Homo sapiens: one gene and its partners. The protein of the gene in region 1 interacts with the protein of each later gene in a pairwise test. Each region holds a gene or a part of one and is shown in the gene's direction. Other genes may lie near its edges. The genes, in order: ESRRG, RINT1, POMC and ADCY4.

Region 1 (8,440 bases):
ATGGTCTAAAAGTCCAGAAGAAAGTTCCCAAGCAGGACTTAGGTATTTTGGAGTAGCTATGTCTGTGCACACAATGATTAATGTTTTCTTCTTTTTTTTTTGAGACGGAGTCTGGCTCTGTCGCCCAGGCTGGAGTGCAGTGGCGCGATCTCAGCTCACTGCCATCTCCGCCTCCCGGGTTCATGCCTCAGCCTCCCGAGTAGCTGGGACTGCAGGCGCCCACCACTACGCCCGGCTAATTTTTTGTATTTTTAGTAGAGACGGGGTTTCACGGTGTTAGCCAGGATGGTCTCGATCTCCTGACCTCGTGATCTGCCTGCCTCGGCCTCCCAAAGTGCTTGGATTACAGGCGTGAGCCACCGCACCTGGCCCACAATGATTAATATTTTCTAACATAGAGAAGGGCAGTATTTTATTCAAGGGAAGATATAAAAATAAAATCTTCTTTTTCAGTGGCTCTGTCTTATTCAATTTGCAGCTGCAAGGATGATGATATTTAGCTATCTTCCCAAAGTAAATGATCTGAACTAGACACATTTTTTTAGGATCTCTTTCACAGAGTAAAATATTGGAAGTTTTGATAAAGTTCTATTTTATTATTAGGTGTTAGACTTAATATGTGGGCAATAATATGTGTTTCATATACACTCTGGTTATCTTTTGAAATATTTATTCTTTTAGAATAGTATTTGCTTGTCTTATTGTCTAATTCAGTAGTAGTTCTTAATCCTGGCTTGGCAGTAGAACTACCTAGATTTTCAGCAATGCTGATGTCCTAGTTCTGGTCTCTTACTTCATAGATCTAGACTTGGGCCCAGTATCCAAGATTTTTAAGAGCTCGCCCATTGTTTTTAATATGTAGCCTAGTCCTGTCTAGTTAGTTCATAAACTTATGATATCCATTAAGTTTAGCTGGTTCCTATTAGCACAAATACTAGGAATATTTCCTTTAAAGCATAGTTAAAAAGAAACCAGCATGAACAATGAAAACAAAATAAATTACATACATTAATGCCAGTTCTATTGAGCCTGGTGTCAACGTGTAAATTTAACCAAAAGAACAAAACAGAGATTAAAACCACAGATCCAGAACTTGAACTAGGATCCCTAATGGAGATTAATATTTTCTTCAGCAGTCTGCCAGCTGAATCATTGTCTAATTAAATAGTTCAAATTTAGTGAGTTTGCATTTAAAGTATTAGCAGATCCGAGAATGGGTAAAGCTAAAATGAGTTAGAATCTTTTCTATAAATGGGAAGTTAAATTATCATAGTAATTTGATTAAATCATTTTTAAATCTCTCATGCTAAATCACAGCCTTGAAAGAATAGTTTGAAATCTTAATTGCTGTTTGTGAGCATATCTCTCTGCTATTTGTTCTTGTCTCATTTCCCATGACATCCTATAATATATCTCCTGCTGGGCAAGAGTAGTGGGAAAGGCAAGACTATGGGTAGGGCCGAGGTAACTGTGCAGCTGACTTCAAGCACTTAAAGATATGCCATGTAGAAAAAGGAAATTTATCCTGTATTGTTCTAGTAATTAGAAACAGGACCAAATGATAGAATTTGGAGACAGATTTAGGAAAATTTAAAGAGGAAATTCATAATAATTAGTTTTGCCTCTTATCAAGGAGAATACTCTACATACTTTTCATACAACTGGCAATGTCTTCATTAAGAATGTTGTAAAGAAGACAGCTGATGAAGATAGGAGTTTGAATAGGATGTGTTTAGAGGACAATTCATCCCAATTTTTAAGGGAATGCAAATTTAGTGTTCTACATTCTAGCAGCATTATTGATTTGAAGAATCCTGAATTTAAACCTGTGTCTGACACATATTACCAGTGCCACGTGTCTTCTAGGGCTTGGGGAGGTAAAATGAGGCCATGTTCACCTGAAATAGGTGCTTAATAAATGGTAAATGTATTATTTTTATTCTGGTGTGTTTTTGGTCTAGTTGGAAAATAGTTATTTCGTTTGTTTTGTCACTGCAGAGTGTAATTCCCATTTTCTCCTTCCATCTATTACTCTGTTTTCATGTAGAGAGCTAATTATTAGACCCAGGATAAGTTGGGAAAATCCAACTCATCTCTGTTCCCTTATGCACAAGGTCCATATTGCAGTCTTTTGTGTATCTAGAGACTCACCATAGTGTTTCCCCATACCTCCCATTTTTCCTTCAGGTAGCATTTAAGTGCAAAAATAGAGAGAAAGAATATCAGATCATGTTGCCATCATCTCTATGAATGTTTTTCTGTCCCTAAGATTACCAACCCCTAGACAACTTTAGAAATTATGTGTGTTTGTTTCTAAGAGACAGCACCATAGGAGGTGGATGAGATTGCCATGCTGAGAGGAACCAGACTGGAGAGAAGCTGGGTAGAAACAATCCACAGGGAAAGGCCAGGCGTATGTTGGGGAGTGACTTGAGTCCCGCTCCAGGGAACCACTATCAATGCTATTTCCCACTTGGAAAAATTCCTTCTTTTTGCTCTGCCAGGCAGAAATTGAGTCTTGAGCAGTAAATACTTATAAGCAACTTTATTCCAGATTATTCAAAAATTTTTTAAAGAGGTGTCATTAAACTACCTAATGTAAATAGTGGTCAGTTCACCAGTGATATGGTGGAATGATTCAAAATGACAATGTAAGTGAAAAAAACACTAAACAAAATACAAATAAATTTTTAAGACATGCTACTGGTTATCTTTTAATTAGTTTGCCATATTTCATTTTTATTATATATTTAGCCACTTGATTTTAAATTACATTCCCTCTCTTTTTGTTCATGTGATCTATGTTTGAATTGTATGAAAGATTAGGCTAACTACATATATCTTAGAGCTCAGCATTCTCAGAGAACTAGAATTATTAAACATGAAGAATCCCCCAAAGACTCCATTATGTGTAATTAACAGATAAACTGTCATCAGAATCAATAAAACGTGCTAAATGATTCAAACTTGTATATAATTAAGTGTCTGCTTTAGAGCTGGAGCTGTAACTTTTATTTTTTCCCCACATCTCACATTTCTCACAAGAATAATTTGGCAACCTTGTTAACCCTTTCTTTGCTTGATTGAATTAGATTTTCAAATTATTCATTTAAGGGCAAAGTTCACCTTTACAAATGCGAAAAATATTTCAGAACTCAGTGATCTGAAGACACCATTTGTTTTTCATCAGGGAAGTAGACTCTGTAAGGATGCTTTAATCAACTGATACTAGAACATTAAACATCCTGAAAGGATAAATAATTTATTGTGATTTCTGTATAGTGCTAGATTCAATGTAGTCACATGGAGTTCTTAGAATCTTAGTCAACAATTTTTTCCCCTGTTTGGGAAATATTGGCTTTTCCAGGCAAGATCAGAATTTTAAACAACCTTCCCCCACACAGCACTAAGATAATACTTTCAATAGATGGCCTTCCGTGGTTGTTTATTGAGTGAATGAATATATACCTGGATGAGACAATGAATAAAATAGTCAAGACTGTAATCTGTTAAAAGAAAGCCTTCTCTTGCTCAGCCTGAGAAAGAAAAATACACATTTTAAATCATAGATCTTTTCTAATAATTCCCATTTTCTAAGCTAGTATTAGAAATTATGTAGGGAAATTTGGAAAGAAATAGAGATTGTAGAAATGCAAGACTCTGAACAAATCATAGGTTCAAGCTCAGAGAAGTTCAAAAATAATTAAATTAATAACTAATTTTATAACTCTAGTCTACATAGGTTTGCTATTATTATTATAATTACTCATATCTTTTGCTTCATTGCACAGACTCCATGCACATAGAAGATGTTGAAGCCGTTCAGAAGCTTCAGGATGTCTTACATGAAGCGCTGCAGGATTATGAAGCTGGCCAGCACATGGAAGACCCTCGTCGAGCTGGCAAGATGCTGATGACACTGCCACTCCTGAGGCAGACCTCTACCAAGGCCGTGCAGCATTTCTACAACATCAAACTAGAAGGCAAAGTCCCAATGCACAAACTTTTTTTGGAAATGTTGGAGGCCAAGGTCTGACTAAAAGCTCCCTGGGCCTTCCCATCCTTCATGTTGAAAAAGGGAAAATAAACCCAAGAGTGATGTCGAAGAAACTTAGAGTTTAGTTAACAACATCAAAAATCAACAGACTGCACTGATAATTTAGCAGCAAGACTATGAAGCAGCTTTCAGATTCCTCCATAGGTTCCTGATGAGTTTCTTTCTACTTTCTCCATCATCTTCTTTCCTCTTTCTTCCCACATTTCTCTTTCTCTTTATTTTTTCTCCTTTTCTTCTTTCACCTCCCTTATTTCTTTGCTTCTTTCATTCCTAGTTCCCATTCTCCTTTATTTTCTTCCCGTCTGCCTGCCTTCTTTCTTTTCTTTACCTACTCTCATTCCTCTCTTTTCTCATCCTTCCCCTTTTTTCTAAATTTGAAATAGCTTTAGTTTAAAAAAAAATCCTCCCTTCCCCCTTTCCTTTCCCTTTCTTTCCTTTTTCCCTTTCCTTTTCCCTTTCCTTTCCTTTCCTCTTGACCTTCTTTCCATCTTTCTTTTTCTTCCTTCTGCTGCTGAACTTTTAAAAGAGGTCTCTAACTGAAGAGAGATGGAAGCCAGCCCTGCCAAAGGATGGAGATCCATAATATGGATGCCAGTGAACTTATTGTGAACCATACTGTCCCCAATGACTAAGGAATCAAAGAGAGAGAACCAACGTTCCTAAAAGTACAGTGCAACATATACAAATTGACTGAGTGCAGTATTAGATTTCATGGGAGCAGCCTCTAATTAGACAACTTAAGCAACGTTGCATCGGCTGCTTCTTATCATTGCTTTTCCATCTAGATCAGTTACAGCCATTTGATTCCTTAATTGTTTTTTCAAGTCTTCCAGGTATTTGTTAGTTTAGCTACTATGTAACTTTTTCAGGGAATAGTTTAAGCTTTATTCATTCATGCAATACTAAAGAGAAATAAGAATACTGCAATTTTGTGCTGGCTTTGAACAATTACGAACAATAATGAAGGACAAATGAATCCTGAAGGAAGATTTTTAAAAATGTTTTGTTTCTTCTTACAAATGGAGATTTTTTTGTACCAGCTTTACCACTTTTCAGCCATTTATTAATATGGGAATTTAACTTACTCAAGCAATAGTTGAAGGGAAGGTGCATATTATCACGGATGCAATTTATGTTGTGTGCCAGTCTGGTCCCAAACATCAATTTCTTAACATGAGCTCCAGTTTACCTAAATGTTCACTGACACAAAGGATGAGATTACACCTACAGTGACTCTGAGTAGTCACATATATAAGCACTGCACATGAGATATAGATCCGTAGAATTGTCAGGAGTGCACCTCTCTACTTGGGAGGTACAATTGCCATATGATTTCTAGCTGCCATGGTGGTTAGGAATGTGATACTGCCTGTTTGCAAAGTCACAGACCTTGCCTCAGAAGGAGCTGTGAGCCAGTATTCATTTAAGAGGCAATAAGGCAAATGCCAGAATTAAAAAAAAAAATCATCAAAGACAGAAAATGCCTGACCAAATTCTAAAACCTAATCCATATAAGTTTATTCATTTAGGAATGTTCGTTTAAATTAATCTGCAGTTTTTACCAAGAGCTAAGCCAATATATGTGCTTTTCAACCAGTATTGTCACAGCATGAAAGTCAAGTCAGGTTCCAGACTGTTAAGAGGTGTAATCTAATGAAGAAATCAATTAGATGCCCCGAAATCTACAGTCGCTGAATAACCAATAAACAGTAACCTCCATCAAATGCTATACCAATGGACCAGTGTTAGTAGCTGCTCCCTGTATTATGTGAACAGTCTTATTCTATGTACACAGATGTAATTAAAATTGTAATCCTAACAAACAAAAGAAATGTAGTTCAGCTTTTCAATGTTTCATGTTTGCTGTGCTTTTCTGAATTTTATGTTGCATTCAAAGACTGTTGTCTTGTTCTTGTGGTGTTTGGATTCTTGTGGTGTGTGCTTTTAGACACAGGGTAGAATTAGAGACAATATTGGATGTACAATTCCTCAGGAGACTACAGTAGTATATTCTATTCCTTACCAGTAATAAGGTTCTTCCTAATAATAATTAAGAGATTGAAACTCCAAACAAGTATTCATTATGAACAGATACACATCAAAATCATAATAATATTTTCAAAACAAGGAATAATTTCTCTAATGGTTTATTATAGAATACCAATGTATAGCTTAGAAATAAAACTTTGAATATTTCAAGAATATAGATAAGTCTAATTTTTAAATGCTGTATATATGGCTTTCACTCAATCATCTCTCAGATGTTGTTATTAACTCGCTCTGTGTTGTTGCAAAACTTTTTGGTGCAGATTCGTTTCCAAAACTATTGCTACTTTGTGTGCTTTAAACAAAATACCTTGGGTTGATGAAACATCAACCCAGTGCTAGGAATACTGTGTATCTATCATTAGCTATATGGGACTATATTGTAGATTGTGGTTTCTCAGTAGAGAAGTGACTGTAGTGTGATTCTAGATAAATCATCATTAGCAATTCATTCAGATGGTCAATAACTTGAAATTTATAGCTGTGATAGGAGTTCAGAAATTGGCACATCCCTTTAAAAATAACAACAGAAAATACAACTCCTGGGAAAAAAGGTGCTGATTCTATAAGATTATTTATATATGTAAGTGTTTAAAAAGATTATTTTCCAGAAAGTTTGTGCAGGGTTTAAGTTGCTACTATTCAACTACACTATATATAAATAAAATATATACAATATATACATTGTTTTCACTGTATCACATTAAAGTACTTGGGCTTCAGAAGTAAGAGCCAACCAACTGAAAACCTGAGATGGAGATATGTTCAAAGAATGAGATACAATTTTTTAGTTTTCAGTTTAAGTAACTCTCAGCATTACAAAAGAGTAAGTATCTCACAAATAGGAAATAAAACTAAAACGTGGATTTAAAAAGAACTGCACGGGCTTTAGGGTAAATGCTCATCTTAAACCTCACTAGAGGGAAGTCTTCTCAAGTTTCAAGCAAGACCATTTACTTAATGTGAAGTTTTGGAAAGTTATAAAGGTGTATGTTTTAGCCATATGATTTTAATTTTAATTTTGCTTCTTTTAGGTTCGTTCTTATTTAAAGCAATATGATTGTGTGACTCCTTGTAGTTACACTTGTGTTTCAATCAGATCAGATTGTTGTATTTATTCCACTATTTTGCATTTAAATGATAACATAAAAGATATAAAAAATTTAAAACTGCTATTTTTCTTATAGAAGAGAAAATGGGTGTTGGTGATTGTATTTTAATTATTTAAGCGTCTCTGTTTACCTGCCTAGGAAAACATTTTATGGCAGTCTTATGTGCAAAGATCGTAAAAGGACAAAAAATTTAAACTGCTTATAATAATCCAGGAGTTGCATTATAGCCAGTAGTAAAAATAATAATAATAATAATAAAACCATGTCTATAGCTGTAGATGGGCTTCACATCTGTAAAGCAATCAATTGTATATTTTTGTGATGTGTACCATACTGTGTGCTCCAGCAAATGTCCATTTGTGTAAATGTATTTATTTTATATTGTATATATTGTTAAATGCAAAAAGGAGATATGATTCTGTAACTCCAATCAGTTCAGATGTGTAACTCAAATTATTATGCCTTTCAGGATGATGGTAGAGCAATATTAAACAAGCTTCCACTTTTGACTGCTCTTTTGTATTGTGTTTCTTTTTTTCCCCCCGCTAAAGAACCAAATTGATAAACACTGCCCTTTGTTGCTTCCATTCAAAGAGTATCTCTGAGTACCTGTTCCCTAAAAATAAAGTCGGAGTTTAAATAAGTGCTATATAAAGGCTTGTCAGAATGAATTCTAGGGTGCCAAGAGACATTTTGCATATTTAAGAGTATGCAAAGTGTCTCATGGCACATTAGAATTCATTCTGACAAGCCTTTATATAGCTCTTATTTAATCTTAAAGCATCTCCACATCATCCTGCATTACTCAAAATCATCGCCTCTATGTCAATGTCATAACAGAAAACTCTCCCCCTATTTTAAGATCATATTAAAGCCTGCTAGAGATACCCATTATTTCCCTCTATCAACAATTAAATCATGCGCTTGCTCCGAGCTCTTTGGCAAGCTGCAGGCTATGTGGAGCAGCAGTAGAGCTGCTGACCAGATTTCCTGAATGAGAAGTCAACAAGCAGAGCTTAGAGATCCGTGTGAATTAGGAGGGGGAGCTGTCTTCGAATTCAAGAGGGTTAAACAGCACTGCTGACAGCAAATGGCCTCCTCTTGCCTTTTACACTCAGAGAGGTTACAGCCCTTGCTGCTCAGGGTCAAGTTGTAGCTTCCACTGGACCCTCCTGGAGCCATCACCGAAGTGCTAATATGTGCTTTCTTGGCTTCTCTGCCTATC
Region 2 (8,440 bases), on another chromosome or scaffold:
AAGGTGTGTGCCACCAAACCTGGCTAGTTTTTGTATTTTTAGTAGAGATGGGGTTTCATCATGTTGGCCAGGCTGGTCTTGAACTCCTGACCTCAAATGATCCGCCTGTCTTGGCCTCCCAAACTGCTGGGATTACAGGTGTGAGCCACCGTGCCCGGCCCTTCCTTTGCTTTGAAGGAAAATATTTAGCAGGTAGAGCATGTATTAATAAGTTTTCTCGGCCTGGCACGGTGGCTTATGCCTGTAATCCCAGCACTCTGGGAGGCTGGGGTGGGCGGATCATGAGGTCAGGAGTTCGAGATCAGCCTGACCAACGTGGTGAAACCCCGTCTCTACTAAAAATACAAAAATTAGCCGAGCGTGATGGCACGTGTCTATAATTCCTGCTATTTAGGAGGCTGAGGCAGGAGAATCACTTGACCCCGGGAGGTGGAGGTTGCAGTGAGCTGAGATCACGCCACTGCACTCCAGCCTGGGTGACAGAACGAAACTCTGTCTCAAAAAAATAAAATAAGTTTTCTCTAGCTGGATCCTCTGCTGAGCCTATGGAGGCAGACCTCTAGATGCTTACTGGAGCCAGTGAGTTAAGTCCCTTTCTCTACATGTATGTGTATATGTATGTATGCATATATTTTTTATTTTATTTTTATTTTTTTGTTTCACTTATTGTTTTCAACACAAAGGCATACTTCTTCCTGCTATTTGTGTGTATATAAAACAGCATGTTATGTTTGGATTGATTAGTACAGGATGAAGAAATCAAACCTTTTTTTGAAGGTTTTGATGGATGATTTTCAGTTCTGTTACAAAAAATGTGTATTTTGAAGGGAACGAACTAATAAAAAAGGTTACATACAGCCTGGGCAACATAGTGAGACCTTATTTCTATTTAAAGAAAAAAAAAAAAGAAAAGCCAGGTGTAGTGGTGCATATGTGTAGTCCCAACTACTGGGGAGGTTGAGGTGGGAGGATTGGTTGAGCCCAGGAAGTCCAGGCTGCAGTGAGCTATGATGGTACCACTGCACTCCAGCCTGGGCAACAGCGTGAGATCCCCTCTCAAAAAAAAAATTATGAAAATTTTATCTGATTGCTGCTGTTCTTTCTTTCTTTCTTTTTTAAAATTATGGTCAGGTACTTACAATTTCATCAGAAATTCCTAAAAGAATTCGAAGTGCCTTAAAAAATGCAGAAGAATCAAAGCAATTTCTTAATCAGTTTCTGGAGCAGGAAACTCATCTCTTCAGCGCCATTAACAGCCATTTGCTGACTGCGCAACCTTGGATGGACGATCTTGGAACCATGATTAGCCAGATTGAAGAGATCGAACGTCATCTTGCTTACCTTAAATGGATTTCACAAATTGAAGAACTAAGGTAAAATGGGCCTCTTTGTTCTCACAATTACTATTTTCCTTTGAGGCTTCTGTCTTAGAGAGTACATGTGTGCCATTAAATAATTGAGTTAATTAAAGATTATAATAATATAATTTTACCAGTTGTTGTGAAAATAGCATTATGATAATGATTCTTTTCCTTTATTGTGAGTGAACATAAGCTTTTCAGGGAGCTTAATTAGCATTTGAAAGAAGGTAATGTAAGTACGTTAAACTTTTAAGTTTTTTTTTTTTGAGATGGAGTCTCGCTCTGTCGCCCAGCTGGAGTGCAGTGGTGCCATCTCGGCTCACTGCAAGCTACACCTCCCGGGTTCATGCCATTCTCCTGCCTCAGCCTCCCGAGTAGCTGGGACTACAGGCGCCCGCCACCATGCCTGGCTAATTTTTTTTTTTGGTATTTTTAGTAGAGACGGGGTTTCACCATGTTAGCCAGGATGGTCTCGATCTCTTGACCTCACTGTCCGCCAGCCTCGGCCGCTGGAAGTGCTGGGATTACAGGCATGAGCTACCGCGTCCGGCCAAACTTTTAAGTCTTACAGTTGGATTATGAACACATGATAAAAACTATTCTTTGTAATGCCAAATTAATAAAACACAAAGTTTGGTAATAGTTATTCTTATTTAATTTTTAGAACTGGTCAGTTAATGAAATGGATTGCTTTTGTATAATTTGAATATTTTTCAGTGGGAATCATAAGAGCTACACAGTATTCTTGGATGAATAACAAGAGTTCTGCTACCTCTGGGTAGGAAAAACAAAAAAGGAAGTAAGGCTTGACCTTAGTTCTTTTTGAGTTGAATACCTATCACTGGTAGTTAATTGTATCTAGCTTTGCCTTTCAGACAACCCAAAGTAACATTTCCACCTAGATTAGTAGATGATAAGGTCCCCACTATCCTTGCATTGTTTTAACTAGTACTTGCTGCAGAGCTGTCAGCAACCATTAATTTTGCCTGGAAAACCTGAGGGAGAAAAGTCTTCTGGGAGTCTTAATGTCCTGTTTCAAATGTATCATAGTTAATAAACCTGATATTACTTTTGTTATGGATATGTTTTATGTATTTCTTTTTCTTGCATATATTTCCCAAAATTTTAAAGAATTTTACATATCAATATAATATAGAAATCTTTGTTTTTAGGCCAGGTGCAGTGGCTCACACCTGTAATCCCAGCACTTTGGGAGGCCGAGGCGGGCAGATCACGAGGTCAGGAGTTTGAGACCAGCCTGACCAACATGGTGAAACCCCGTCTCTACTAAAAATACAAAAAAAAAAAAGAAATTAGCCAGGCATGGTGGCGCGTGCCTGTAATCCCAGCTACTTGGGAGGCTGAGGCAGGGGAATTGCTTGGACTCGGGAGGCAGAGGTTGCAGTGAGCTGAGGTTGTGCCATTGCACTGCAGCCTAGGCAGCAAGAGCGAAACTCCGTCTCAAAAAAAAAACAAAAAAAACAAAAAAACTTTGTTTTGCATGTATGAGGAGTTTTACATATAAAGTGGTTTAGAACATCTCATTCTTGTTTAGATAAATTATTTGCAGTGAAGGAATTTTAAACCTTGCTTTATTTTACTGCATTTCTCCTTGTCCCTCAGAAAGGAAATATCAGTAAGGGGCAATGTTAATAACTTTATTAAGTAAAATACGTTATTTGAAAACCTCACTCTTGTAGTAGCCAAAGTAATAGATTAACTAAATTAGGTCCATGGTTATTGATAAACTTTTCTTTTTTCTTCTTTTTTTTAACATTTATTTTATTTATTTTAATTTTCTTTTTATTTTTTTTTGAGTTGGAATCTTCCTCTGTTGCCCAGGCTGGAGTGCAGTGGCACAATCTCAGCTCACTGCAACCTCCACCTCCCGGGTTCAAGCGATTCTCCTGCCTTGGCCTCCCGAGTAGCTAGGACTACAGGTGTATGCCACCACGCCCAGCTAATTTTTGTATTTTTAGTAGAGATAGGGTTTCACTATGTTGGCTAGGCTGGTCTTGAACTCCTGACCTCAAGTCATCTGCCTGCCTTGGCCTCCCAAAGTGCTGGGATTACAGGTGTGAGCCACTGCACCTGGCCTTGATAAACTCTTCAGATATCTGAATTGTTTATAAGGGAAATATGCCGAGGGATTTATATTAGAAATAGGGATCAAATTCATAAGCAGGTAGAGCACAGTTATTTTTCTGTCTTTAATAATGTGTTATTTCCCTGAGGTCTTTTATGATAATCTCTCCATTTCCAGCTTTCCTTTAGAGCTTCTGGGATTTTCTTCATCTCTAAATTTTTTTATAATGGCCTATTTTTATTCTGATGTACATTGTCTTTTTTTCAAGTAGTTTCTTCTTGCTAGAATTAGCATCCTTACATTAGCTCTGTTTCTTGGATACTATAGTATAGCACTATCACTCTGAGTGAACCTTGTTTCTCTAGCTTTTCCTATGTTGTAAATGTCATTCATACTTTAGTGTTGTGAGGAAATCTATTTCATTCCTTCCTTAAAAGCAGTACTCCTGCCGGGCATGGTGGCTCATGCCGTAGTCCTAGCACTTTGAGAGGCTGAGGTGGGCAGATCGCTTGAGCTCTGAATTCTGTGACCAGTCTGGGCAACATGGCAAAACCCCATCTCTGTTTAAAAAAAAAAAAATCAGCCAGGCTTGGTGGTGAGCACCCATAGTCCCAGCTACTCGGGAGGCTGAGGTAGGAGGATCGCTTGAGCCCCGAGAGGTTAAGATTGCAATGAGCCGTGATTGTACCACTGCACTGCAGCCTAGGTGACAGAGTGAGACTCTTTTAAAAAAAAAAAAAAGGCAGTACTCATATTCTGTTTGTACATTTGAAATTCTTCTGTAATATTTGTATATATATATATATATTTTTTTTTTTTTGAGATGGAGTCTTACTCTGTTGCTGAGGCTGGAGTGCAGCGGCACCCTGTCAGCTCACTGCAACCTCTGTCTTCTGGGTTCAAGCAATTCTCCTGCCTCAGCCTCCTGAGTAGCTGGGATTACAGGTGCCCATGACCACGCCTGGCTAGTTTTTATATTTTTAGTAGAGACGGGAAGGGTTTCACCAAGTTGGCCAGGCTGGTCTCGAACTCCTGACCTCCGGTGATCCACCCATGTTGGCCTCCCAAAGAGGCCACCACGCCTGGCCTCTTTTTCTTTGAGACGGAGTCTCACTCTGTTGCCAGGCTAGAGTGCAGTGGCATGATCTTGGCTCACTGCAACCTCCGCCTCCCGGGTTCAAGCAGTTCTCCTGCCTCAGCCTCCCGAGTAGCTGGGATTACAGGTGCCCACCACCATGCCTGGCTAGTTTTTATATTTTTAGTAGAGATGGGGGATGGGGAAGGGGGGGCGGGGGGCGTTTCACCAAGTTGGCCAGGCTGGTCTCAAACTCCTGACCTCCGGAGATCCACCCATGTTGGCCTCCCAAAGTGCTGGGATTACAGGGTTGAGCCACCAAGCCCCGCCTGGAATTATATTTCTTTGAAGTGGGAAATCAAGTTCAGCTGGGCAAAGTATGTAACAATTGAAGACCATCATACTTGACTTTACCAGATACTACCACATTATTCCCTTGGATTAAGATACTGAAGACTTTGTAAAAGGCAGATTTATCAGAAATGAGTGGTGCCCAAAGGAATATGACACAAAACAGGTCTGTCAGGAGGAGTAGGAAGGGAAAGGTCCCGGGAGAGGTCTTGAACATAGGCTGCAGGCTGCTGCTCTTAGAAGAATGCAGAAGTAGAGGACTCTAGGCTCCCAGAGAGGCCTTGGTAAAAGGCCTCAGGGTGGTGCTTTGTTAAAAAACAAAGGCTACCTCAGGGTGGTGCTTCATTCTTCCTTGGATGTAACTTTATATAAAACATGAAGAAGAAGCACTTTTTCCGAATTTGAAATTATTCTGAGCAATCCGTTCTTTAAATTTGCTTTCGGCTGGGCACGGTGACTCACGCCTCTAATCCCAGCACTTTGGGAGGCCGAGGCGGTCGGATCACTTGAGGTCAGGAGTTCAAGACCAGCTTGGCCAACATGGTGAAACCCTGTCTCTACTAAAAATACAAAAAATTTAGCCAGGCATGGGGGCGCATGCCTGTAATCCCAGCTACTGTGGAGGCTGAGGCGGGAGAATCACTTGAACCTGGGACACAGAATTTGCATTGAGCCAAATCATGCCACTGCACTCCAACCTGGGCAACAGAGTGAGACTCTGTCTCAAAAGAAAAAAAAATTTGCTTTACTTTGTTTACAGTGATAACATTCAGCAATATCTGATGACCAATAATGTACCGGAGGCAGCCTCCACTCTAGTGTCTATGGCAGAACTTGACATTAAACTTCAGGAATCATCTTGTACTCATCTTCTTGGTTTCATGAGAGCCACAGTTAAATTCTGGCATAAAATTCTCAAGGACAAGCTTACAAGGTAGGGAATTTACCCATATTTTGTGGTAATTGCTTTCCGATGGGTATTTGGTGATCATTTGGTGATGTACTGAAATGTATGTGTTACTTTTCCATTGCAGTGATTTTGAGGAAATTTTAGCACAGCTTCATTGGCCATTCATCGCACCCCCTCAATCACAAACTGTTGGCTTAAGTCGACCTGCCAGTGCCCCGGAGATATACAGTTACCTGGAGACACTGTTTTGTCAGCTTTTGAAACTACAAACCTCGTATCTTTGTTGCAGCTGAAAACTTACTAAAATTTCTTTTTTCTAGAATGGGTTTGTGGCTAGAGAGTAAAACTTTTTCAAAGTGGCCAAGAAAGCCAAATAAGAATCCTGTGTTTGGACTTGGTCTGTAAATGTCCACTGAGTGGTGGACTGTACTCTTGCAAAGTGAATTGCTTGTAGGTGTGAGGGCTGTAAGGAAGAGTTCCGGGATACATGACTGATCCAAGTTCATAGCACAAAAAGGTCTCTTGGGGCAACAGAACAAATGGGCAATTGGGAGGAAACCTTTAGTGTCATAGCGTGAATTTAATCAAATGATACTTGAATTTTTTTTGTTACTATTTTAGGAAAGATTTATAGATTAATTCTAATACCATTTTTGTGCTTTTTTTTTTTTTTTTTTGAGATGGAGTTTCGCTCTTGTTGCCCAGGCTGGAATGAAGTGGCGTGATCTCATGATCTCGGCTCACCACAGCCTCCACCTCCCGGGTTCAAGCGATTCTCCTGCCTCAGCCTCCCGAGTAGCTGGGATTACAGGCGTGCACCACTATGCCCAGCTAATTTTGTATTTTTAGTAGAGACGGGGTTTTTCCATGTTGGTCAGGCTGGCCTCGAACTCCTGACCTCAGGTGATCCACCCGCCTCAGCTTCCCAAAGTGCTGGGATTACAGGTGAGAGCCACTGCACCTGGCTCATTTTTGTGCTTTTTTTAAAGACATGGTCTCACTTTGTCACCCAGGCTGAAGTGCAGTGGTGCAGTCATGGCTCACTGCAGCCTTGACCACCCAGGCTCAGTTGATTCTCCCACCTCTTCTTCCTGTGTAGCTGGGACTACAGGCACGTGCCACCATGCCCCGCTAATTTTTGTTGTTTTTTGTAGAGATAGGGTTTTGCCGTATTGCCTAGGCACGTCTCAAATTCCTGTGAAGTGGCCCAAGTGATTAGCCTGCTTCAGCCTCCCAAAGTGCTGGGATTACAGGCATGATTCACTATCATCATGCCTGGCTTTTTGTGCATTTTAACTGAATGTATATTCAATATAAAGAATTAACTGTATGTTTATTCAATATAAAATTAGGTTACATATTATTTGCATCATAATTAACTCTACTGAGTATCTGATACATTTGTTGGAAAAATTTATTGTGTGTGTATACATACATATGTGTGTGTATATTAGGTATGCTTTTGATTCTTTTTCCTTGACTTGATTATGTCAGAGATGAATTACTTACTGAGCCAAAGCAACTCCCAGAAAAATACTCTCTTCCTGCCTCCCCTTCTGTCATCCTGCCCATCCAGGTTATGCTGACTCCTCTTCAGAAGAGGTTCAGGTATCACTTCAGAGGGAACCGGCAGACTAATGTGTTAAGCAAGGTGTGTTTTGCCAGCTCTTGTCCTTGGTTTTTATTGGTAACAAATGTTAGAGTTTCTATACCTTTGCTGGTTTAAGTTAAAATCTGACTCTCTTCACATTTCTGTTTTTTTTCTAAAGGGCTACATTCCTGTTTTGTTACTGCTGTTCATACATATAATTGAGGACTTGTGTTCATATACTGTAGGAAAAATGGTATTTCCGCTCTTGGGCATCAGATATTGCTGAGTTATCATTGCAAAACAAAGCAAAGCAAATAGTAAGCACTTGGTATTTCTTTTCTTTTTTTTTTTTTGTGAGTTGGAGTCTCGCTCTGTCACCCAGGCTGGAGTGCAGTGGCACAATCTCTGCTCACTGCAACCTCCACCTCCCAGGTTCAAGCGATTCTCCTGCCTCAGCCTCCCAAGTAGCTGGGACTACAGGCACATGTCACCACACTGGACTAATTTTTGTAATTTTAGTAGAGATGGGTTTCACCATATTGGTCAGGCTGGTCTGGAACTCCTGACCTCAGGTGATCCACCTGACTTAGCCTCCCAAAGTGCTGGGATTACAGGAGTGAGCCACTGCGCCTGGCATGTACTTGGTATTTCTGCTCTTAAACCTGTATAAGACATGCGTAGTTTTTGTAATGCAGACTAGCAATTTTTTTTTTTTGGAACGAAGTTTCACTCTTGTTGCCCAGGCTGGAGCGCAATGGTGTGATCTCGGCTCACTGCAACCTCTGCCTCCCGCGTTCAAGCGATTCTCCTGCCTCAGCCTCTTGAGTAGCTGGGATTACAGGTGCCCACCACCACGCCCAGCTAATTTTTGTATATTTAGGTGAGACGGGGTTTCACCATGTTGACCAGTCTGGTCTTGAACTTCTGACCTCAGCTGATCCACCCACCTCGGCCTCCCAAAGTGCTGGGATTACAGGCATGAGCTGCCACGCCTGGCCAGCAATTTTTTTCTTGATTTACTTTTTGAAAATAAAAACCATAAGAAAATAATATTAAAATTATTTTC
Region 3 (6,661 bases), on another chromosome or scaffold:
ACTCCAGAGTAGTTATCTTTGACAAGAATTGAAATATAATTGAGGGAACTATCAGACCTGTAAGATTTTGTTTTTTCCTTTACTAATATGTTACTTTACATTTGCATTTGGTGACATACGTAACTACCATTTTTCTGTGACTGTAACATCTGGGCATTTTTCAGAGCTAAATGTGCTATGGTCAACTTGGAGCTTTAATCTAATTGCCTGGTCCACCAAGTTCTGGCTGTGTACTTGAATAGATCACTGGCAGGGTACAATGGGAACAGCCTGTCCCTTGGAGCCAGGAGAGGACACCAAGGTTGACCAAAGCTCGTTCAGTTGCCCCTTTAGCCGAAGCGCACCTGGGCCAGTCACTGGCTGCCAGTGCCATCTAATGGCTGCTCTGAAAATGCTCAGCCTTGCCCGGCAACCCTTCAGAAGCTAGCACCGTGCAGGCCCAGCGCCTGGGGAATAGGGCGAGGGTGGGGTAGAGAGAAGGAAGTGGCCTCCTGAAGTAGAAATCAGCGCTTCAGAGGACTTTCACTTCCAAAGCCTCCCCTATATAAAAAAGATTTGGCCCACGCCTCCCCAAATGAGAGATTTATTTTAGGCAAACTTATTTTAAAATGCCAGCGTTCATTAGGAGTGACAAGACACTTAGTCATCCACGCTTTAATGTGAATTACTTTTCTCATCTAATTACATTTCTTTCTAGCAGCTGGCTGAGAAGATCTTCTGAAATCCAAAATGATTGTAGGGTTGGCGGTGAGCTGATCTCCGGCCTCGAGGTGGCTTCAGGGGGCCCACCTGGTTAAGGGAAATTTGGCAGTGCGAGGGTAGTGCTGGAGAGAGGGGTGGGTACAGGGGGCTAGGGGCACCATGGATGCCCCCTCCTTACTGTCCCCTGGTGTCTTGACCTCAGCTTCTGCCCACAGGCACTTGCTGGATTCTCCAAAAGTATCTGCAGTGGCTGTTCCACCAGGAGGTAATTCCCTTCTGGTCTCTTTCCCCTCCACATCTGCATCCTCTTCAAATCCTGCCATTTCAGACCACATTTGAGAGCTCTAGAGAACAAGACATCTGACACGTGACGTGTCCAGAAGATGAGCCAGATTTCAAAGAACTGAGATCTGCTTTAAAAACGAAGCTCTCCAAAGTTACTGGAGTCTGGGTAATAGTGATCACCAGAGTAATTTGTGTGCAGGACATCAAATCAGGCTGCTCGAAATGCTGCCTAAATTGGCCAGTGGTTTTATTTGCTTTTCTGTCAACCTAATATTCATAGGAAATAGAGTTTCAGAGGAATGATAGGATCCTGGTGGAATAAAAAGGGAAAAGACCATCTTGAGCAGGAGTTTCAGGGTCCTCCGTTTTTCCCAAGTTACTTTCACTCCTGAGATCTTGCATGTTAGAACTACAGCTTAATGTAGTGAAATAGGAAAGTTCTCTGTTAGGAGCTTAGCCTTACCTTGTCATGGACATTAAAGTAATTGTCTCTCTTTGGGCTTCAATTTTCCCATCTCTCATGGGAAGGGCTGAACCAAGCAATCCCCAAAATAGCTTCCAGCCTTAACCTTTTTAGGGGTCTCGTTTAAATAGAAGATAACAGGGAAATGGTCACAGTTTACCCACCATTCCCTCCTCCTTATCACAACTTATACCACCGCTGTACTGCACACCTCCTTTCTCAGCATTGCTGCTGTCCTTAAAATGCCTTTAACTCCACAAGAGAGTGTGTTGTTAATGTTGGCTCAAGGTCCTTCCTGGTGAGTGGCCAACATTGTTTTGCTCCTTGCAGGGGTCCCACCAATCTTGTTTGCTTCTGCAGAGCCTCAGCCTGCCTGGAAGATGCCGAGATCGTGCTGCAGCCGCTCGGGGGCCCTGTTGCTGGCCTTGCTGCTTCAGGCCTCCATGGAAGTGCGTGGCTGGTGCCTGGAGAGCAGCCAGTGTCAGGACCTCACCACGGAAAGCAACCTGCTGGTACGTGGGCCATGACTGCCATCTTGGCTTAGACATTAGATGGGACTGGAGCTGGGAAAGCTCAAAAGAAAAGGGTGTGGGGAAAGGGAAATTCATTCCCAGTGATAGGCGTGATTCAATCCAGGGCAGGAGCAAAACTTTGCAGTGAAGTAAGAAATGGGAGAAGAAATCAGGGAAGGAAGCAGCTTCAGGGAGAGGGGTTGAGTCCACAATTTCTGCTTGGTTATCCTTACTTCTTGCCCCATCTTTTATGGAGACCTTGAACCCTTTAAGCTAGAGATGGTGCTATAAGAGCAATAATGGACCCCTCAATCTATTCTGTACTTTAAATCTTTAGCTTCCCAAACTATTCCTTTTTAAGAAGCTCATATCACTTGCCATTTTCATTCCATATTTCTTACCCTTTTATCTACTACCGGTTGCAAAACCAGCCAGGTAGTTCTTCAAATCATCTCTGGAAGAAGGAAAAACCAGGGGCCCTTTTTTTTTTTTCTTTAATTGGTGCCAAATGTCTCATGTTTATTCTGGAGGACTGGCCTTCTGCTGTGTTCCTCTACAGTCTTTCCAGAGCATGTGAAGGCCCTTTGCATCAGGCAGGAGCTCCCTCCAGGTCACCACAGGGTGTATGTATCTGCCTGTGGGGGGTGTGTGTGTGTGTGTGTTGGGGGGCATAAATGAGTAATGATGCCAAATCCAGAGATTAAAAGGCACACTGAGACCAGGCGAGATGGCTCATGGCTGTAATCCCAGCACTTTTAGATGCTAAGGTGGGAGGATTGCTTGAGCCCAGGGATTCAAGACAAGCCTGGGCAACATAGTGAGACCTCCACTTCTACAAAAAATAAAAAAGTTAGCCAGATGTGGTGGCATGTGCCTGTAGTCCTAGCTACTTGGGAGGTTCACTTGAGGCCAGGAGTCTGACGACACAGTAAGCTATGATCACACCATTGCACTCCAGTCTGGGTAACAGAATGAGACCTTGTCTCAAAACAAAACAAAATGAAACAAACAAACAAACAAACCCCCATACTGTTAGTGTCAGTGACCGGAATTTTAATCTTGTTGCCATCACCTGGCAGGTGCTGAGGGTGGAATGTACATAACTACATTCTGTGTATTTTGTCAATGCAGAAGCTGAGTTAAGGTGAAGATAGAATGAGGTCCTCAAAGACACAGACCAGTTTTCATGTGTAATATAAAATAGAAACAAAGAGCCCAGGGGATTCTGTGAGTTCCAGTTTGGAAAGACCCAAGAGTCTCTTGACTTGAGACACCCACAGCACAGCTCACCAGGGAGGGTGCACTGGACACAGTCAGGACCCATGGGTTCTAGACCCAGTTTTGAGGTGTGGGACCTTGACCAGGTCCTATCACCTCTCTGAGTCTCCTGTTTCACTATCTGTCCACGGGAGGGGAGTGTAAATTAGTTTTTTCCATTGTTAACGTTCCACAGAGTTGTAATTCTGAACACCTGGAGTAGGCAATGTCCAGCTCAACAGAGTGGGTAGGATCCTTTTATTTTCTCCTTTGCTATTCCCAAGAAAGAGAGCAGCCAGTGAGCTTTTCATCTTTTTATCACTGAAAACTCAAGGCTGCAGCCTATGCAGCCATTTTCCTAAGCTAATATGTACCACAATAGAGTCCTCTAGGGACAAGGAGCAGAGACACAGGTTCCACAGACGGTGCAATGGAAATAACGCTAGCTTTCCACCCCTCCCTCCAGTCAGAATGAGATTACAGGGAAATAAGCTTGCCCCAGAGCTCACTGGGGGATCTCTCAGAAATCAGCTCAGAAGTCGTGAAAGAACCAAGGTGCAGTTTTGGAGGCTTAGTGCAGAGATGGAGCTGGGGTAGGGCATAAAGTAGGTTTTTCATCACTGAGGTAAGGTTGAGGCATTATTTTTTATTTTTTGTTTATTTATTTATTTTTTTGAGACGGAGTCTCGCTCTATCACCCAGGCTGGAGTGCAGTGGCGCGATCTCCCCTCACTGCAAGCTCCACCTCCCAGGTTCACACAGGTTGAGGCATTATTAAAAATATGTTTAAAAATATGGGCCCTAGTAGCCAGACTTCTATCACCTGGAGAGATTATCCCCCAAATTTCAGCCCCACTCCCCTCCTGGACTTGAATTAAACCATATGTATTTATTCAATATTCTTTTTATTTATTTATTTATTTTTTTGAGACGGAGTCTTGCTCTGTTGCCCTGGCTGGAGTGTGGAGTGCAGTGGTGTGATCTTGGCTCACTGCAACCTCTACCTCCCAGGTTCAAGCGGTTCTCCTGCCTCAGGCTCCAGAGTAGCTGGGATTACAGGCGCCCGCCACCACACCCAGCTTATTTATTTATTTATACTAGAGATGGTATTTCACCATAGTTGGCCAGGCTGGTCTTGAACTCCTGACCTCATGTGATCTGCCTGCCTTGGCCTCCCAAAGTGCTGGGATTATAGGTGTGAGCCACCGTGCCCGGCCCTCAATATTCATTAAGTGCCAACAACTACCACCCGTCTGCCTTTCTTGGAGCCACTCCTTTATGTCAGGCATATAACAGTAAGACTTTGGTCCTGTTCACAAAAGCTAGGGGTGGCTAGATGGCTAGACAAACCATGGAATGGGATGGGAAGTGTGTTGCAGTTGCCAGGCAGAAGCATGAAGGGGATGGGACAAAAGAGGCAGTGGCAAGATCTTAGATGCCCACGAGTGCCAAGAAAGCAGGTGGGCAGACCTGCTCTGTAGGGAGGCCTCGACGCTTGACACGCCCGACACTGTGCCCTGTGTCCTCGGCACGTGGCGAGGGCGGCCAGGGCCTAGGCGCAGTGACGGGCGCGGCAGCCGGGCCGGGGTGCGGGGCACGGGCTGCCCTCATGCCCTCGCGTCTTCCCCCAGGAGTGCATCCGGGCCTGCAAGCCCGACCTCTCGGCCGAGACTCCCATGTTCCCGGGAAATGGCGACGAGCAGCCTCTGACCGAGAACCCCCGGAAGTACGTCATGGGCCACTTCCGCTGGGACCGATTCGGCCGCCGCAACAGCAGCAGCAGCGGCAGCAGCGGCGCAGGGCAGAAGCGCGAGGACGTCTCAGCGGGCGAAGACTGCGGCCCGCTGCCTGAGGGCGGCCCCGAGCCCCGCAGCGATGGTGCCAAGCCGGGCCCGCGCGAGGGCAAGCGCTCCTACTCCATGGAGCACTTCCGCTGGGGCAAGCCGGTGGGCAAGAAGCGGCGCCCAGTGAAGGTGTACCCTAACGGCGCCGAGGACGAGTCGGCCGAGGCCTTCCCCCTGGAGTTCAAGAGGGAGCTGACTGGCCAGCGACTCCGGGAGGGAGATGGCCCCGACGGCCCTGCCGATGACGGCGCAGGGGCCCAGGCCGACCTGGAGCACAGCCTGCTGGTGGCGGCCGAGAAGAAGGACGAGGGCCCCTACAGGATGGAGCACTTCCGCTGGGGCAGCCCGCCCAAGGACAAGCGCTACGGCGGTTTCATGACCTCCGAGAAGAGCCAGACGCCCCTGGTGACGCTGTTCAAAAACGCCATCATCAAGAACGCCTACAAGAAGGGCGAGTGAGGGCACAGCGGGGCCCCAGGGCTACCCTCCCCCAGGAGGTCGACCCCAAAGCCCCTTGCTCTCCCCTGCCCTGCTGCCGCCTCCCAGCCTGGGGGGTCGTGGCAGATAATCAGCCTCTTAAAGCTGCCTGTAGTTAGGAAATAAAACCTTTCAAATTTCACATCCACCTCTGACTTTGAATGTAAACTGTGTGAATAAAGTAAAAATACGTAGCCGTCAAATAACAGCAGCATGGATCGGAGGAGCACAGTGGTTTCCATGCGGTAGGATATTTCACAGGACTTAGTGAGCGTGAAAGGAAAATGTGCTTCCTGCCCCCACCCCCAAATGGATCTTCGAGGGATCAGATAGTTTGGGTGAAGGCACAGGGTGGCTCCAGCACCTCTAGGATGGCCGTATTTTCCACACACTCCACTGAGTGGGAGACTGCTCAGCTAGCACACGTGTAAAGGCAGGATTCCTGCAAGAGTGACCCCGGGCGCTCAGGGGCTCCCCGGCTCCGGTCCACCTCCAAAAGCCAGTTGGACAGGTTGAGGCCTACCCACGCCTGGGAGTGCTCTGGACTGTCAGGTGAGAAGTCTTGGTAATGTCTCCGGGGAACTGCTCGTAGCAATCCATGGGACCTTAGGCAAGTCTCTGAACTTCTCCAAAATTTAGTTCTTTCATCTACCCCTCCCTTCCCAGTATGAGGGTTATTGTGAAGATTAAAGGAGAAAATGGACATAATCTTCTTTTTATCATAGAAGCTAAGTGTGAGAGCTGAGGGTTAGTATCAGTTCCAATTTCACTCCCAGGCTACTCACAGATACGCTCAGACATACGGTCTCTCTCACACACACACACTCATGGAGACACACATCTGTTTAATACAACATACTCTACGCAGTTGCTTCTTCCAGCCCCTAGGGCTTAAGCCCTGACTCAGGCCCTCTGACCCCTCCTGCCGTGCCCAGGCTCCTCCCTCCCCGCGTGTTTCAGCTCCAGCCCTTCTCATCCTTAGTACTTCCCCCAGGCCTCTCTGATAACAGCTTCCCAACCAACTGGTCTCCTAGTTTCCAGCTGCTCTCCCCAGCCCATCATATACGAATTCTTCACGTTAGTTTACACAAAATCTTGCTTTTTCCCACAGTCCCAGGCTC
Region 4 (8,440 bases), on another chromosome or scaffold:
TGGGCGTGGTGGCGGGAGCCTGTAATCCCAGCTACTCGGGAGGCTGAGGCATGAGAATCACTTGAACCCGGGAGGCAGAGGTTGCAGTAAGCCGAGATCGCGCCACTGAACTCCAGCCTGGGCGACAGAGCAAGACTCTGTCTCAAAAAACAAACCAACCAACCAACAAAAACCATACGAGACTGCTGAGTCTAGATAAAAGCAGTAGGACACAAGCAATTTCAAATGGTTCAACCTAAAGTGAATGGCAAGCGGAGGTGCCTTGCCTCCTTTTCGTACTTAGGCTTGAGACACCTTTCAGAACTGGGCTGAGGGGCTGGGCTGCTGGCTTTTCCTTTATCAGGTTCGTTCCTTCTCCCTGTCACAATCTTGCCTCACACACCCCTGCCCACAGGAGCTGACCTCAGACCCGAGCTTCCTGACCACTGTGCTGTGCGCGCTGGGCGGCTTCTCGCTGCTGCTGGGCCTCGCTTCCCGGGAGCAGCGACTGCAGCGCTGGACGCGTCCCCTGTCCGGCTTGGTATGGGTCGCGCTGCTAGCGCTAGGCCACGCCTTCCTGTTCACCGGGGGCGTGGTGAGCGCCTGGGACCAGGTGAGAGGGGCGGCAGGCGGGGCAGCGGGGACGGCCCGGGCTTCGATCCCTCACCAGGCCTTGAATAGCCCCACTTGGGCCTTCGGCTTCCCGCGCCCCGCCCCCAGGTGTCCTATTTTCTCTTCGTCATCTTCACGGCGTATGCCATGCTGCCCTTGGGCATGCGGGACGCCGCCGTCGCGGGCCTCGCCTCCTCACTCTCGCATCTGCTGGTCCTCGGGCTGTATCTTGGGCCACAGCCGGACTCACGGCCTGCACTGCTGCCGCAGGTGAGCACGCAAGTAGCACAGGCTGCGCTCAGGACGGCTCTGCCACGTGCTAGTAGGCTCCTTTTAGGGGGTTGTTGAGCTGTGACTCCAAGTCAAGGTGCAACGCTGGGCGCAGGATACCCAACCGTGCTTTCGCAGAGCTGGTACAACAGTGTGATGCAATGCCTGCTGTTACCAGAAGAGGGATCCAGGCCACACGGAAGGGAGTCGTGTCGTGGTTTACCCCGGGGACAACAGATGTGGTTAATGAAACCTTGACAGAGAATGAAAAAAAAAAAAAAAAAGTTTTGTGCGATGGGAGTGGGTAGCGACAGTGGAGTGGTATTCCAAGCACAAGAAACCTACCTGCAAACGTTTCCAGACCTAAGAGGTCGTGTTGGTGAAGCAGCCGAGAGTCTGGAGGAGGGAGCATCTGGGAAGGGAAACGTCCCTAGGGATGCCACAGTGTGGCACCACTTGTCCCACAATAGTTAGGTCCCTCACTGTAAAGCCCAGTCTTCCCCAGCCAGTCTTTGAGACCAACTCCAACTACACACGACAAGCACCCGGGTCCCGCGCCCTCTGAGGCTGGCCTTCACCCACAGTTGGCAGCAAACGCAGTGCTGTTCCTGTGCGGGAACGTGGCAGGAGTGTACCACAAGGCGCTGATGGAGCGCGCCCTGCGGGCCACGTTCCGGGAGGCACTCAGCTCCCTGCACTCACGCCGGCGGCTGGACACCGAGAAGAAGCACCAGGTCAGCCGGGCCTAGGAAGGTCAGAGCAGCGCTCCGAGGGAGGAGTTGCTTAGATTACATAACGGGGCTCCTCCACAAGTTGAGTGACTCTGGGCAGGTTTCTTGACCTGTTTCCTCTTTTGTATAAAATGTGGGTATTGCCCATCTTAGAAGGTTGTGAGGCTCAAACAAACCAAAGCTTATAAAAAGCACTTTAGAGCATTATGATATTAAGTGAACTCCCATTCAGGTGTTGATACTGGGAGTTTAGTCACTAAAGGTGATCAGTGTAGGATGGAGTGCTGGGGCCCTGCTGTGTGCAGCGGGAGGACCTGGGGGAGCACCCTGGGGAGCACCTAGGATGGGCAGTGTGGGCTCCTGAGTGATTTGGGGGACAGGGCCTCCTGGCTTTAGGGTGCAGAAGAGTTGGTGTTCATGGTGACCTCTTCCAGGAACACCTTCTCTTGTCCATCCTTCCTGCCTACCTGGCCCGAGAGATGAAGGCAGAGATCATGGCACGGCTGCAGGCAGGACAGGGGTCACGGCCAGAGAGCACTAACAATTTCCACAGCCTCTATGTCAAGAGGCACCAGGGAGTCAGGTATGAGGAAGAATGGCTGGAGGGGAGGGGCCTGTGGGCTAAGACCCTGGCCCTGCTGACACAGTCTGCCCTATGCAGCGTGCTGTATGCTGACATCGTGGGCTTCACGCGGCTGGCCAGCGAGTGTTCCCCTAAGGAGCTGGTGCTCATGCTCAATGAGCTCTTTGGCAAGTTCGACCAGATTGCCAAGGTCAGAGAAGACTTCCCTCCCCACCCAGGGACCCTCAAACATCCCATCCTGGGTAGCCCCTTCCAAGGGAAACTCCCACCTTATAAGATCCCAGGCCCACTTCAGTGCATGCAGGCCCCCAGATATTCCAGTGGAAGGAGGAAACCCTCTCAAACATTCCCAGTCATGAAGCTGCTCACCACACACCTCAAACCTACAGAGATCCCTCAATATCGCCACAGATGTCCCAAGTACAATGCCCCAAACATGCTCAGAGCCCCCACATATGTGTCTCTGGACACTACAACCAAATCTATAGAGACGTTCTGATATTCTAACCTTAGGAGGCCCTTCCAAGAGAAATTTCTGCCCTATGCAACCTCAGCCCAGCAACCTGCTTAGACTCCAGGGATGCCTCCAAGCAACCAATTCTTGGATTCCCCCCAACCTCTCAATCCTGAGACCACTACCACGTACTCAACTCTGGGTACCCCCTTCAACATGCCAAAAGTGGAAAGAGCCACAGCCATCCAGCCCTTGGGGAAACTCTTCTGAGAAAGAGATCTGTATGAAAGACAGTTAGCCCCATATCAAGTGAAAGGAGTCCCTAGATCTGATCTAGACACTACCCCACCTTGGAAGTTCTTCAGGAATACCCCGCTCGCTGCCCACTTTTCCCAACTCCCTCCTACCCTTCTGACCTCTAACCAGGTTCCTCTGCACACCCACATACACACTCCCAGGAGCATGAATGCATGCGGATCAAGATCCTGGGGGACTGTTACTACTGTGTCTCTGGGCTGCCACTCTCACTGCCAGACCATGCCATCAACTGCGTGCGCATGGGCCTGGACATGTGCCGGGCCATCAGGTCAGCTCAGGCGGTGGTCAAGAGGAATGCTGAGGGTGGATGTGGGGGGCAGCAGGCAGCTGACAGAAGTCCTCTTTGTGAGAATCTGGGGTGTCTCACAGGCAGGGCTGAGGGTAGGACTCAGATTGTCCCACACACACACTGCTCAGGAAACTGCGGGCAGCCACTGGCGTGGACATCAACATGCGTGTGGGCGTGCACTCAGGCAGCGTACTGTGTGGAGTCATCGGGCTGCAGAAGTGGCAGTACGACGTTTGGTCACATGATGTCACACTGGCTAACCACATGGAGGCAGGCGGTGTACCAGGGTGAGACCTAGGGCCCTAGGCAGCTACAGCAGAAGGCCAACCAGGCCTACCACAGGCTGCCATCCTTTCATTAGTTCCTTAAGATAAGCACAAGATGAGTACCTTAAGATAAGTCCCATATGGGGCTTGGGAGATCCTAGGGTGCAGGGAGGGGAGCTGGGAGGCACCTCCTGTAACACAGGCTCTTTCTTGAAGTCAGACATCCAGGAACGATCTTTAAAAGACATGAGATGTTTGTCAGTTCTAGGAGCCATGGGGGTGATGGGGCAGGAAATAGGAGATTTGAAGGCCCTCCCTGCTGACCCCTACTGCCTCCCTCCTTCCAGGCGAGTGCACATCACAGGGGCTACCCTGGCCCTGCTGGCAGGGGCTTATGCTGTGGAGGACGCAGGCATGGAGCATCGGGACCCCTACCTTCGGGAGCTAGGGGAGCCTACCTATCTGGTCATCGATCCACGGGTAAAAGCCCAGCCCAGACCCCATGGGCTGGCCTACACAAACCACCCCACAGCCAACAGGCCTGATCTCTTCTGTGCCAGAGATTGAGTTCCTGGGTCCTAGTGGGGGGTGGAGGGAGAAGGAGGAAGTGTCTGTGGTCTTTACTGTCAGCCCTTATGTGCCCCAGGCAGAGGAGGAGGATGAGAAGGGCACTGCAGGAGGCTTGCTGTCCTCGCTTGAGGGCCTCAAGATGCGTCCATCACTGCTGATGACCCGTTACCTGGAGTCCTGGGGCGCAGCCAAGCCTTTTGCCCACCTGAGCCACGGAGACAGCCCTGTGTCCACCTCCACCCCTCTCCCGGTATGTGCACCTTCATCCTGAGCCCCAGAGCTTAGTTAAATCCACCCCCAGTATCCTCAGGCCCCACTGGCAGCCTTCCCTGCCCCCACCACCAGTGAGCCACTTAATGATTTGTGACATCCCAAAGTCCCGAACTGTCTTGTCACCCCAGTCACTGGTTCAGGCCCTTCCTTGCCCCTCCTTCTAGAGAAAGAGCCCTCCAGCTCACCTCAGAGAAGATACAAGATCCCTACAGACACCATTGTAGGGACCAGCCCCACAGGGTCGGTGGGTCTCTCCCTGTGTGCGACGACGAGAGAGTGTAGAAATAAAGACACAAGACAAAGAGATAAGAGAAAAGGCAGCTGGGCCCGGGGGACCACTACCACCAATGCGCGGAGACCGGTAGTGGCCCCGAATGTCGGGCTGCGCTGTTATTTATTGGATACAAGGCAGAAGGGGCAAGGTAAAGAATGTGAGTCACCTCCAATGATAGGTAAGGTCATGTGGGTCACATATCCACTGGACAGGGGGCCCTTCCCTGCCTGGCAGCCGAGGCAGAGAGGGAGAGGAGACAAAGAGAAAGACAGCTTACACCATTATTTCTGCATATCAGGGACTATTAGTATTTTCACTAATTTACTACTGCTATCTGGAAGGCAGAGCCAGGTGTACAGGATGGAACATGAAGGTGGACTAGGAGCGTGACCACTGAAGCACAGCATCACAGGGAGACGGTTAGGCCTCCGGATAACTGTGGGTGAGCCTGACTGATGTCAGGGCCTCCACAAGAGGTGGAGGAGCAGAGTCTTCTCTAAACTCCCCCAGGGAAAGGGAGACCCCCCCCCCCACCCCGCTTTCCCGGTCTGCTAAGTAGCTGGTGTTGTTTCTTGACACCTTTTGCTACCGCTGGACCATGATCCGCTTGGTGACGGGCGTCTTCCCAGATGCTGGCGTCACCGCTAGACCAAGGAGCCCTCTGGTGGCCCTGTCCAGGCATAACAGAAGGCTCGCACTCCTGTCTTCTGGTCACTTCTCACTATGTCCCCTCAGCTCCTATCTCTGTATGGCCTGGTTTTTCCTAGGCTATGATTATTGAGTGAGGATTATCATAATATTGGAATAAAAAGTAATTGCTACCCACTAATGATTAATGATACTCATATATAATCATATCTAAGATCTATATCTGGTATAACAATTCTTGTTTTATATTTTATTATACTGGAACTGCTCGTGTCCTCTGTCTCTTGCCTCGGTGCCTGGGTGGCTTGCCACCCACACACCATGTCCATAACTCCCCAGCCTCTACTCAGGAGAGTGCCTTCCCCTGACACCACAAAGGCAGTTGGACCCCCCACTTCCTCCTGTCTCTGATTCTAGGGCTGTGCACCCATAGCACCAGGAAATGTCTCTGTTTAACTCAATTCCTGAAACTGCATGCTCTCTTCTTCAACCCCCCAACACTGGGGAGTGGGGGAAGGACACTGGCAGCAGTGGTTGCAGGAAGTACTTAATTCCAAGTGTTAACATGAGGTAGGGGAGAGGTCAGAGGGTTAAGCTGGCAGGAGGAAGAGGAAGGAAGAAGCTGAGGTTCAGCTGACTGTTGCAGGATGAGACCTCCAGCATGGGTGGAGTGGTGTGTGGGGACTGCTACAAGCCCAGGGACTGTGAGATGGTGTTAGGTACAATTACATAGCAGGAATGCCTGCCGGGGCCCATGCTAGACCTCCTGCCGCTTTCCACTGGTGTGCAGGCTAGGGAGTATTAGGGTGGAAGAGCAGGACCCTTTGTTCAAGGGTGTCTCCTGAGGCAGGACCTTCACTAGCACAGAAATCCACTTAGCCCCTGAAGTTCCAGGGGCTCAGTCAAATATTAGAAATCTTGCCAGGCACGGTGGCTCACACCTGTAATCCCAGTACTTTGGGAGGATGAGGCAGATGGATAGCTTGAGGTCAGTAGTTTGAGACCAGCCCGGCCAACATGGCGAAACCCCATCTCTACTAAAAATACAAAAATCAGCCAGGCGTGGTGGTGCGTGCCTGCAATCCCAGCTACTCAGGAGGCTGAGGCAAGAGAATTGCTTGAACCTGGAAGGCGGAGGTTGCAGTGAGCTGAGATTGCACCAATGCACTCCAGCCTGGGCAACAAGAGCGAAACTCCGTTGCAAAAAAAAAAAAAAAAATCCAGCCAGGTACGGTGGCTCATGCCTATAATCCCAGCACTTTGAGAAGCCGAGGCAGGCGGATCACCTAAGGTCAGCAGTTTGAGACCAGCCTGACCAACATGGTGAAACCCCATCTCTACTAAAAATGCAAAAATTAGCTGGGCGTGGTGGCACATGCCTGTAATCCCAGCCACCTGGAAGGCTGAGGCAGGAAAATCGGTTGAACCTGGGAGGTGGAAGTTGTGGTGAGCCGAGATCATGCCATTGCACTCCAGCCTGGTGACAGAGCAAGATTCAGTCACACACACACACACACACACACACACACACACACACACACACAAAGATCCTGGGAGTCTAGAGAGTCAGGGGGAAACTTTAAGGAGATTCAAACCTCCCCTTCAAGGGCAGGTGGGATTTGGGAGACAGAGAGGTCATTAGAGGCAAAAGAAAGAGCCCAGTGAAATGCCCAAGGTCAAAGACATGTATAGAGCATGCAGTGTGGCTCATGGTCTACCTCACTGCAGGGAAAACACCCACCATGCCCACCTCCCCCTGTGCTCTCCCAACAGGAGAAGACCCTGGCTTCCTTCAGCACCCAGTGGAGCCTGGATCGGTGAGGAGGCCTCAAAGTCTTTGCCAGTGGGGCTGTCTGGATGACCCCCTCCATCCTCCCTGGGGGTCTGCTCCTGCTTTGCCCAGACGCTCTGAGGGTCTCTGTGGTGATGGACTTGGCTCTCACTGTGCAGGAGCCGTACCCCCCGGGGACTAGATGATGAACTGGACACCGGGGATGCCAAGTTCTTCCAGGTCATTGAGCAGCTCAACTCGCAGAAGTACGGAGAACAAAGAGGGCTGGGGGGGCCGCAGGCCCTGAGGTCATATGGTGGAGAAGGGATGGTGCTCCCTGAGGGGCTGGAGGGAAGACTCGCCTGACCACCCCCTCTTGCCCTCACTCTGCCCTCTTCCTGCCCTTCTGTGCCCTCTGTTCTCTGGTGCTTTCACCCACCCTCCCACCTCCCACCAGACAGTGGAAGCAGTCGAAGGACTTCAACCCACTGACACTGTACTTCAGAGAGAAGGAGATGGAGAAAGAGGTGGGCTGTGGTGTGGGTGGCACCAAACAACTTCCCAACTTTAGTTCCTTGGTGCTGGGGAGGGGTCAGCCCTTGGGTCTCCTCCCCAAGTCTGCTCAGTTTGTGATCCTAGGGGTGAGGAGCTTGTGCCTCTCTCTAAAGGAAAGTCACTCTGTAGACTGAGCTACTAGATGGTAGGGGGAGGAAGGAGGGTAACTCCTTGGAGAACTGGTAGGGTCTACATGGAACTGAACTGGAGCCTGGGCGGTGAGGCTGAGGAGCCCACCCCTTGCCTGGGAGTGATGCCTTCAAGGTGATGGGTAGCACTGGACCCTGTCTCCACCTCTGGCCCTCTCACTTTCAGTACCGACTCTCTGCAATCCCCGCCTTCAAATACTATGAAGCCTGCACCTTCCTGGTTTTTCTCTCCAACTTCATCATCCAGATGCTAGTGACAAACAGGTGAGAGTGCCCCAGGCAAAGGAGGCCCTGGCTGTCATAAGCGGATCACCTTGCCCTCATGACCCCGGGCCACACTTTCTTCCTTCACCCCTTCCCCTTAGCTTCAGGCACTTACCCACAGAGGAAACATGTGTTCTGGGGAAAATGATAATCACGGCCCTTATCTTAACCTTGTAGATCCTGTGGACTTTCTACACAGCCCTAGCATTTTCCCATGAGCATCTCTTTTGATTCTAACAACATCCCCATGAAGGCCAGTTTGTTTCCATTGAGAAACCCAAATCTGGCAGCAAATGCATGAGCTTAGAAAGTAGGCCCTCATTCCTAGTCCACTGCTAGGAGGGATGAGGACTTGTTCTTAACTCAGCCAGGTGGCCGGGTGTGATGGCTCACGCCTGTAATCCCAGCACTCTGGGAGGCTGAGGCAGGTGGAT

What was found.
Region 2: the proteins of ESRRG (region 1) and RINT1 interact in binary tests that used the Homo sapiens proteins (3 or more experiments, as listed by UniProt).
Region 3: the proteins of ESRRG (region 1) and POMC interact in binary tests that used the Homo sapiens proteins (3 or more experiments, as listed by UniProt).
Region 4: the proteins of ESRRG (region 1) and ADCY4 interact in binary tests that used the Homo sapiens proteins (3 or more experiments, as listed by UniProt).

Annotation. Positions count from the first base shown.
Region 1 is NC_000001.11:216,502,535-216,510,974, reverse strand, and holds the end of ESRRG (estrogen-related receptor gamma), read left to right. Parts: intron 1-3,791; coding exon 3,792-4,036; 3' UTR 4,037-7,724; downstream 7,725-8,440. UniProt on the Homo sapiens protein: Orphan receptor that acts as a transcription activator in the absence of bound ligand. Binds specifically to an estrogen response element and activates reporter genes controlled by estrogen response elements.
Region 2 is NC_000007.14:105,541,277-105,549,716, forward strand, and holds part of RINT1 (RAD50-interacting protein 1), read left to right. Parts: intron 1-450; exon of another isoform or gene 451-579; intron 580-1,131; coding exon 1,132-1,373; intron 1,374-5,633; coding exon 5,634-5,807; intron 5,808-5,907; coding exon 5,908-6,057; intron 6,058-7,272; exon of another isoform or gene 7,273-7,277; coding exon 7,278-7,434; intron 7,435-7,552; exon of another isoform or gene 7,553-7,691; intron 7,692-8,440. UniProt on the Homo sapiens protein: Involved in regulation of membrane traffic between the Golgi and the endoplasmic reticulum (ER); the function is proposed to depend on its association in the NRZ complex which is believed to play a role in SNARE assembly at the ER.
Region 3 is NC_000002.12:25,159,942-25,166,602, reverse strand, and holds the end of POMC (pro-opiomelanocortin preproprotein), read left to right. Parts: intron 1-917; exon of another isoform or gene 918-967; intron 968-1,780; exon of another isoform or gene 1,781-1,810; 5' UTR 1,811-1,830; coding exon 1,831-1,962; intron 1,963-4,850; coding exon 4,851-5,522; 3' UTR 5,523-5,743; downstream 5,744-6,661.
Region 4 is NC_000014.9:24,324,943-24,333,382, reverse strand, and holds part of ADCY4 (adenylate cyclase type 4), read left to right. Parts: intron 1-394; coding exon 395-592; intron 593-699; coding exon 700-861; intron 862-1,445; coding exon 1,446-1,595; intron 1,596-2,026; coding exon 2,027-2,175; intron 2,176-2,253; coding exon 2,254-2,365; intron 2,366-3,087; coding exon 3,088-3,215; intron 3,216-3,364; coding exon 3,365-3,523; intron 3,524-3,849; coding exon 3,850-3,982; intron 3,983-4,148; coding exon 4,149-4,322; intron 4,323-7,040; coding exon 7,041-7,084; intron 7,085-7,217; coding exon 7,218-7,304; intron 7,305-7,495; coding exon 7,496-7,565; intron 7,566-7,908; coding exon 7,909-8,006; intron 8,007-8,440. UniProt on the Homo sapiens protein: Catalyzes the formation of the signaling molecule cAMP in response to G-protein signaling.